2 separate regions of the Homo sapiens genome follow, and region 2 is linked to region 1. The links come from fine-mapping of genetic effects on gene expression. A gene starts in region 1. The other region holds a variant in brackets. All regions are shown on one strand. Distances are between the middles of the regions.

Region 1 (4,392 bases):
GTGCTGGGATTACAGGCGTGTGTCACCATGCCCAGCAAATTTTTGTTTTAAATGAAACAATGTAAACATACTTAAAGCAACAACTACTTTATGCAGTTAGTGTTGACCCCATCTTACAAATGAGGAAGAGAGGTACCCTGAGGTAAAGTGGCTTGTCCGAGGCTTAGAGGTAAACCAGGTGTGTCTCCCTGCAGAGACTGGGCTTTTCACCGTAATGCTGATGGAGGCTTGGTATTGCACAAAGCATTCTGTGTGTGGGCAGCCCTAATGGTTAAAAACCTCTTCCCTTTATGGAACAAAAATCTACCTGGCATTATCCTGGAGTCACATAACATTCTTTCTACTATACGTTAGGTAGTGGAATGTGAGTTTAGCAGAGGACTCTGAAACCAGACTGCTTGGTGAGAATCTATTCTGCACAGCTTAGCAGCTGAGTGATCTTCAGCGATCACTTACTTTCCTGAGACTTAGTTTCCTCCCTTGTGAAATGTGGTACCTATATGACGGCTATTTTGAGCTGAAATTACAATTGCTTCCCTGAACATCCCCACCTGTGTCTTCCAGTGACCCCTCAACATTAATGTGAGCAAAACAAGGCTCAACTTTCTGCAAACATGGTTCTATCTGTGCAGGACGAGCTAGGTGATTTGTGAGGGACAGGGTGAGATGACTGCCCAGGCCACATGCTCACGACACCAGCCCTGTTCCTGTGTTGCCCTCATGAGCCAGCCACTGCCACCCTCTCCAGTCCATCCCTTTCCTTCTTCTTCTTTTTTTTTTTGAGATGGAGCCTCGCTCTGTCGTCTAGGCTTGAGTGCAGAGTGCAGTGGCACAATCTTGGCTCACTGCAACATCTACCTCCTGGGTTCAATAAATTCTCCTGCCTCAGCCTCCCAACTAGCTGGGGTTACAGGTGCCTGCCACCACACCCGGCTAATTTTTGTATTTTTGGTAGAGATGGGTTTTCGCCATGTTGGCCAGGCTGGTCTCAAACTCCTGATCTCAGGTGATCCGCCTGCCTCAGCCTCTCAAAGTGCTGGGATTACAGGTGTGAGCGACCGTGCCCGGCTTCATCTCATTTTTAACTGTGGAATTGCTGGGTTTTAAATTTTAGCTTTAAATTAGATAGTGCAAGTCACATAGTTCAAAACAAGTATTCACCAGTGCTTAACGTCTGTCTCTGTGTAAGTTCTAAGACCAAGTCCTTGGGCCAGGTCACATTCACAAGAGCCTCAAATTTAAACTTTTGAGATCATCTTCGAACGAAATTTGGAATTTGGAAAAAGGGAGAAACGTTTAAAAAAAAAAAAACCTCTTAAAATTGCATCTACTTCCAGACTGCACCATCTCAAGGTGATGTGACTATTTGTATAAATCTTGGAATTATTATTTGAGGAACACTTACAGAATTTATGTGTACAAATTAAAAGCTCGAATATGTTGAATGTACATTTAATTTTATTTATTTATTTATTTTTGAGATGGAGTCTCACTCTGTCGCCCAGGCTGGAGTGCAGTGGCAAGATCTCGGCTCACTGCAACCTCTGCCTCCCAGGTTCAAGCGATTCTCCTGCGTCAGCCTCCCGAGTAGCTGGGATTACAGGCGTGTGCCACCATGGCCAGCTAATTTTTGTATTTTTAGCAGAGACGGGGTTTCACTATATTGGTCACACTGGTCTCGAACTCCTGACCTCAGATGATCCGCCTGTCTTGGCCTCCCAAAGTGCTGGGATTACAGGCGTGCGCCACCGCTCCCAGCCTTGAATGTACATTTTAAATATACCACGAGTCCACCACTAAGGCTCAGAAAATATAAGTGGCCTCTAGGATCTCTATACCTCCGCGAGGAAAAATGTCTTCCTTTTTTCTATTTTAGCCGCATAACCGCGAATGAACCAAAGAGAACCCGAAGCCGGTGGGAACTCAGCGCAGTCTCACCCTGCCCCTCGGGAACCGCTTCTCAGCAGCGGCAGCCGAAGTCTGACGACGCTTAGCAACCGTTACCTTGACAACGCAATCCTATCGCGCACCATGGAGTGCGGCGCCCCTCTGCATCCCAGAAGGCACCGCGCTGTCCCTAAGCCTTCCGCCCCTCTCCGTCCCAACATGCAACGAGGCTCACAGTCAATGAATCGTCATCAGGGTGATTACAGAAAAGCCTGTATATCCACGTTTGTTTTAACACTTAAAGTGTTTGTAACCATTGTGAGCGGGAAAGATCTGGAAAGAGTGTTCTCAGTGATTTTTTTCAGACTATAGTTTTAAATCTTGAGGAGGAAATCCCCATCTTTCCCTGGACTTGTACAGGCATCTCATTGGGCAGCCCGCACAAACAGACAGCGTGGGGTGGGGAGGGTCCTCGGGGTCCTTGGCAGGGCACGTGCGGGAGGAAGTGGAGCTCCCTGTACGCGCGGCCCTAGTCGGCTCCTCAACGTGGAGCGATGGGAGGCCTTGAGAAGAAGAAGGTGATTGGGAAAGACGGTGGGGATTCCCGAGGGGTGGGGTGCGGGGGCGGCAGAGCATGGGGTCGACTCTTTTCCCGGGCTCCGTCTCGTGGAGACTGGAAAGACGGGATCGACGTGACCGTAATCAGCTGCGAGAAGGGGTCCGAGAATGGACAAGGATGGCAGTATTCGTTTAGTGAAATCCGAGAACGAACTCCAGAGTTCTTTCTGTGGAGAGGGCTGTGAAAGAGAGTTGAACTTACCAAGCGTAGCTTCATTCCAAAAGCAGGCCGAGCCGTGGGACCACTATTTACCGAAAGGGTGATAAACATTACGTAGAGCTCACCGTTACTGCACCGTTACATTAGTTGGTTAGTGTTGTCTTGGAAGTTCTCTTCGAGGCATAACATTTCGGCTGAAATGGGAAAGATCAGAACGTCTTGGATGGGTTCTGGGGCATGGGAGTGCTTAGCGAGCAGGCCTGACAAGGGAAACCAAGTGCCAAGATCAGTAGGCAGGGAAGGCTTGCTGTGTGTAAGGAGTTGGAAGGACATTAGGATGACTCGCATGTAAACCAAGAAAAGAATGGCATCTGATAAGATTGGGGTTGGACACGTACTGTATCGTGCAAGGCCTGTAAGCTTGGATTTTATTCTAAGTGCAGTAGGAATAGTGTAGAGCTTGGATTTTATTCTACGTGCAGTAGGAAAAAAAGGAGGAGTAACACGATTAGAGTTTTTCAGGGAGTTCTTGTGGCTGTATGGAGAATCGGCCCAGTGACATGAAAAGACTGGGAAGGGAATGGGAATGAGGAATATATAGTTGGCTTAAGTGTTTCTTTCAGAGTGAAAGTTTCTATTGCCAGTGTTCTTAACCCAACACACTACATTGAGTATCCAGTGCTAGCCATCGGAACTGCAAAGATACAAGATGGAAAACCTGCCCTTGAGTTGCAGATGTAGATATGTAACAAAATCGTTACAGTTTTTAAAAGCTGGGTTTCAGAGCCAGAATCAACAAAGATGAGTCTTTGTTGTGGGAAGGATTGTCTTGTGTGTAGTAGGATATTTGGCAACATCCCTGATCCTTTACCTACTGGATACCAGTAGCACCCAGCAACCAAAAATGTCTCCAAACATTGCTGAACTCTCCTCCCCCCAGCACATACCCAGGGAGTACCCCATTGAGAACTATTTATTCCCTTAACATTTATAAGGATAAGCATGGTGACAGAGATAAGTGTGGCATAAGGTAATGGAAAACGCTATAAATGAAAACTCAACTTCTTAAGGCAGTCTGAAACTCATCTTTATACCTCCAAGACTTAGCATGGGCCTAATACCTAATAGACAATTAATGTCTAAAGGAAAGAATGAATGAAGGGTATGTTTCATGACTATGATGTTATTAGTAAACGTACCTGTGGGAGACTAACAGGTTTGTCTCTTTAGAGCTGAACCTAGCCAAAGAGGCCCCTGCTGTCTTAGTCCAGAGGAAGATCTTGTTTGGAAACGACATGCTTGTTAGCTTGCAGGGTATTTGTTACAGTGCACTGATTGTCTCTATCGAGGGATACAGAAGTGTGAGGGATACAGAAATGTGGGTGTGAGGCAGCATCTTAGCACCACAGGCATCCAGATGGTTATACAAGACAATAGGCTTCTTAGGGGCAGGTAGAGACCAGGCTTTTTGTCTTTATTGCCTTCATAGCATCTAGCTTAGTGCTTTGACCATAATAGAGGACCTGTTATTGTCTGTTGAATGAATGAATGAGGAAGGGGAGAAGCTGTGTGGCTTAGAGCATGCTTTTTCAGCCAGGGTAATACCACCCTCAAGGGAACAAAATTGGTTGAGGGGCAGTATCTTAGCTATTACAATGGTTGTGGCTCCCCAAGGACTACATTACATAAACAGACCTACAGTATATCTCTGGTATTAACATTTTATG
Region 2 (4,333 bases), 98 kb after region 1:
GAAACTTTGACCTGCAGAAATCCGAAGACATGCTCCGAAGGGTAAGGATCTGTGATCCCTACTGCCCTGCCTTCCATGCACTGTGACCCAGGGATTTGCTGCAAAAGGGTAGAGACTCTGGCCCTGTCCCATTCTCCTGTTTCTTCTTTCTTCCTCCCCCGATCTCTTTCTGCATCAGACCCAAGTCCCCCCAGCCCACCTCCTGTCCCCACGCTCTGAGAGCCTGGGTATGCTGTGGTGGGATCTTGGTGGCTGTGGGCAGAGGGACCTAGCCTGGTGTCCCCAGGTTCCTGCAAAATCCTATAGCTCCTGCTGTGTTCCTGCAGCACATGGAGTTCCGGAAGCAACAAGACCTGGACAACATTGTCACATGGCAGCCCCCTGAGGTGAGCCTCGAGCAGCATCCCCCAGGCCATCTGAGGCCCCTCACCCCTGACATCTCCCACCTACCACGTCCAGCCACCTGATGGAGTAGGGACCCAGCCTGGTGAGCTGGATTGAGTCGGGACCTTACCCACACTTCCAGGTCATCCAGCTGTATGACTCGGGTGGTCTTTGTGGCTACGACTACGAAGGCTGCCCTGTGTACTTCAACATCATTGGGTCCCTCGACCCCAAGGGTCTCCTGCTGTCAGCCTCCAAGCAGGATATGATCCGGAAGCGCATCAAAGTCTGTGAGCTGCTGTTGCATGAGTGTGAGCTGCAAACTCAGAAGGTGAGCAGCGGGGGTGGGGCTGGGCCTCATCTGTCTACAGGGTGGCACCAGGACCAGAGAAGGGTGGCACCCTGCCCCTCCCCAGCCCTCAGCACCCAGGGCTCTGGTGGAATGTGGGCTTCTCCCACCCTTACCCACCCGTAAAAGTGAGGTGTTGTCCATCTGTCTGGAAAACGCTGTGGGCTGCCAGAGGGTGGGATGGCAGGAAGGTGGGGAGAGGTGCCCAAGTCTCTCTGGCCAGGATCTCCTGGCTGGAGCTGTCGTCTGACCTATATGACTCTGTCCCAAGCAGCTGGGCAGGAAGATCGAGATGGCGCTGATGGTGTTTGACATGGAGGGGCTGAGCCTGAAACACCTGTGGAAGCCAGCTGTGGAGGTCTACCAGCAGGTAAGGTGGGTGGCTGGCTTGGGGCTGGTGTGGGCAGTGGCTCCCAGCTGTGAGCCCTAGCTGTGAATTGATGTGAGAATCCAGTGAGATAGAGGGGTGGGGATGCCTTGCAGGGGCTCCACAGACCAGCCAATGATGCTGGCCTAGAGACCACCCTCCACGGAGAAAGGGGAGCAAGATTAACACAAAGAGGCCAGGCGTGGTGGCTCACGCCTGTCATCCCAGCACTTTGGGAAGCCAAGGTGGGAAGATTCCTTGAGCAGGAGTTCAGGATCAGCCTGAGCAACACAGTGAGATGTCATCTCTACCAACAATAATAATAATTTTTACATTAGCCCAGTGCAGTGGCACGTGCCTGTAGTCCTAGATACTTGGGTGGCTGAGGCGGGAGGATCTCTTGAACCCAGGAATTCAAGGTCGCAGTGACCTGTGATTGTGCCACTATACTCCACCTTGGGAGACAGAGTGAGACCCTGTCTCGAGAACAAATCAACAAACAAAAAAAGAATAACAGAGAGGAAGAGGCACATGCTTGTGGGGAAGGTAGGATGGGCCAGGGATGGGCCTCTTGTCTCAGCAGCATCAGAGGCCACAGAAACCCATGGGCGGGAGGTGATGGAACAGAGCCCCAACCAGACTCATCTTGACTCCACAGTTTTTTAGCATCCTGGAAGCAAATTATCCTGAGACCCTGAAGAATTTAATTGTTATTCGAGGTAAGCCCATGACCGGGATGACCTCCTGGGGAGGGAGAAGCAGGAATTGGGGGTACAGTAGGTAAGCCATGGAGTTAAAGGCTTCTTCACCCATCCTTTGTGAAGAACCAGGTTTTGTGTGGTTGGTTTCTGGTTAGTTAGTTATTGAGATGGAGTCTCCCTCTGTCACCCAGGCCGGAGTGCAGTGGCATGATATTGGCTCACTGCAACCTCCGCCTCCTGGGTTCAAGCAATTCTCCTGCCTCAGCCTTCCTAGTAGCTGGGATTACAGGTGCACGCCACCATGCCTGGCTAATTTTTGTATTTTTAGTAGAGATGGGGTTTCCCTATGTTGGCCAGGCTGGTTTTGAACTCCTGATCTCAAGTCATCCAGCCACTTCGGCCTCCCACAGTGCTGGGATTATAGATGTGAGCCACCGCACCCGGCCTCTGGCTTTATTTTTTAGTTTCAGTCCTTCACAGACTGATATTTTTGTAATATACAAAATCA[T/C]GCACTGGTATGTTTCAGCAATGTCAAGTTATAAGTTTCTAAATGTTTACTGTTACTTACTTATGTCAGTGTGGGCTGGGAACAGATAGTCCATGGACCACACTAGTGGATGGACACACTTTGAGCGGGAATGGTCCCTGGCTGCCCTGGTGATGTCATGTGTTCCAGAGTCAGAGGATCTGGTTCAAATCTAACTAGCTCTATGATTTTATCCAAGTCTACTTAACCTCACTGAGCCTCAGTTTTCCCATTATGTAAGATGGGGATACAATAGCCCCCTCCTCAAAGATAACTATGAGGTTAAATGAAACAGTGTGTGGAGAAGATGGAGCACAGAGCTTGGCCCACAGACAGTGCTCAGTTGAGTGTGAGCAATTCAGGGCAGGACAGGAAGTCTCATGTAGATGTCACACCCAAGAAGATTCCAGACAACCTGGAGTGTGGAAAAGAAGTGATACTGTTGGGGAATCAATATTGCTGACCCTAGAGCCAGCTTGTGCCCAATCCCTTACAACTGGGTTGGGGAGACAGCCATTTTTCTTTTTCTTTTTTCTTTTCTTTTTTTTTTTTTTTTTTGAGATGGAATCTCACTCTCTCACCCAGGCTGGAGTGCAGTGGCGTGATCTTGGCTCACTGCAACCTCTGCCTCCCAGGTTCAAGCAATTCTTGTGCCGCTGCCACCCGAGTAGCCGGGATTACAAGCATGCACCACTACGCTCAGCTAATTTTTGTATTTTTAGTAGAGACGGAGTTTCACCATGTTGGCCAGGCTGGTCTTGAACTGCTGGCTTCAAGTGATCTGCCTACCTCAGCCTCCCAAAGTGCTGGGATTTCAGGCATGAGCCACTGCGCCTGGCCTGAGACAACCATTTATTGAAAGCCAGGAACTGTGCCAGGTGTTATACATACATTATTTCACCTTCATTTTCCAGTTAACTGCACTAAGACTTGGAGAGGGTGGGTAACTTGCTGAAGGTCACACAGCAGAGAGTGGCAGAATCCATATCTGTCCACCTCCTGTCCAGCACCTGCTCTTGGCTGTGGCTCTGTATCCCCACGTCCTTTCTGGTCCAGCTTCTCAAGAGATTTACATGTGTTTCAGCCCCAAAACTGTTCCCCGTGGCCTTCAACTTGGTCAAGTCGTTCATGAGTGAGGAGACACGCAGGAAGATTGTGATTCTGGGAGGTGAGCGACGTGGCCCCCTGGTTGTGTCCATCTGCCTGGGAAGCAGAGGTCAATGCTAAAGACCCTGCTTCTCCCTGGCTCGTCCTCTACTCGGGCACTACCCCTGGCCTGACCCTGGTGAGCCTCCACACGCACGGGCAATGCCTTGGGTCCTAGACCGTGGGCTGGGAGCCACATAAAGGTCTTGGGTACTCTTAGGAGTAGGTGCCCGGGGGAGCACGCCCAGGACATATCAGGTTCCCTCACCAAGCTCAGCCCCCTCTGCCCTCTGTTGAGTCTCCTGAGTCCCTTTGGAGTCCCTCTCTTGCTCCCATGCAGACAACTGGAAGCAGGAGCTGACAAAATTCATCAGCCCCGACCAGCTGCCTGTGGAGTTTGGGGGGACCATGACTGACCCCGATGGCAACCCCAAGTGCCTGACCAAGGTACAGGGTGCCCAGAGGATGGGGAAGGAGGGGAGAAGCTGTGATCTAGTGCCCACACACCCCCTTCACCCACAGATCAACTATGGGGGTGAGGTGCCCAAGAGCTACTACCTGTGCGAGCAGGTGAGGCTGCAGTATGAGCACACGAGGTCCGTGGGCCGCGGCTCCTCCCTGCAGGTGGAGAACGAGATCCTGTTCCCGGGCTGTGTGCTCAGGTAGGGATGGCAGCCACTCTACACCTGGGCACATCTGGGAGGGGCCTGGAGCCCAGGCAGGGGGTCGCCAATGGGGCTCTATCCACTGCAGGTGGCAGTTTGCTTCAGATGGTGGGGACATCGGCTTTGGGGTTTTCCTGAAGACCAAGATGGGGGAGCAGCAGAGTGCTAGGGAGATGACGGAGGTGCTGCCCAGCC

Alleles and levels. Alleles are on the strand shown, and positions count from the first base shown. SD is a standard deviation of normalised expression in the study named.
With allele C in place of T in region 2, the expression in tibial nerve of the gene that starts at base 2,365 in region 1 is higher (moderate effect, 0.42 SD a copy in GTEx).

Evidence for each region. PIP is the estimated chance that this variant, and not a neighbour inherited with it, causes the effect.
Region 2: its variant is fine-mapped to the expression of PES1 in tibial nerve (GTEx, PIP 0.97). The same link has a PIP of 0.9 or more in visceral fat.

What each region holds. Positions count from the first base shown.
Region 1 is chr22:30,589,883-30,594,274 of GRCh38, reverse strand. It overlaps PES1 (pescadillo ribosomal biogenesis factor 1), which reads left to right and starts at 2,365. Exons shown (of 15, transcript NM_014303.4): 1 at 2,365-2,465. The coding sequence starts at 2,442. RefSeq lists enhancers at 1,743-1,822, 2,043-2,342, 1,822-2,537.
Region 2 is chr22:30,491,636-30,495,968 of GRCh38, reverse strand. It overlaps SEC14L4 (SEC14 like lipid binding 4), which reads left to right. Exons shown (of 12, transcript NM_174977.4): 3 at 1-41; 4 at 327-386; 5 at 527-715; 6 at 1,008-1,103; 7 at 1,759-1,819; 8 at 3,412-3,495; 9 at 3,814-3,920; 10 at 3,996-4,135; 11 at 4,227-4,333. Among named protein-coding and RNA genes, the nearest start is that of SEC14L4, 12 kb to the left of the region's middle. The variant T/C (reference allele first, on the strand shown) is at 2,310.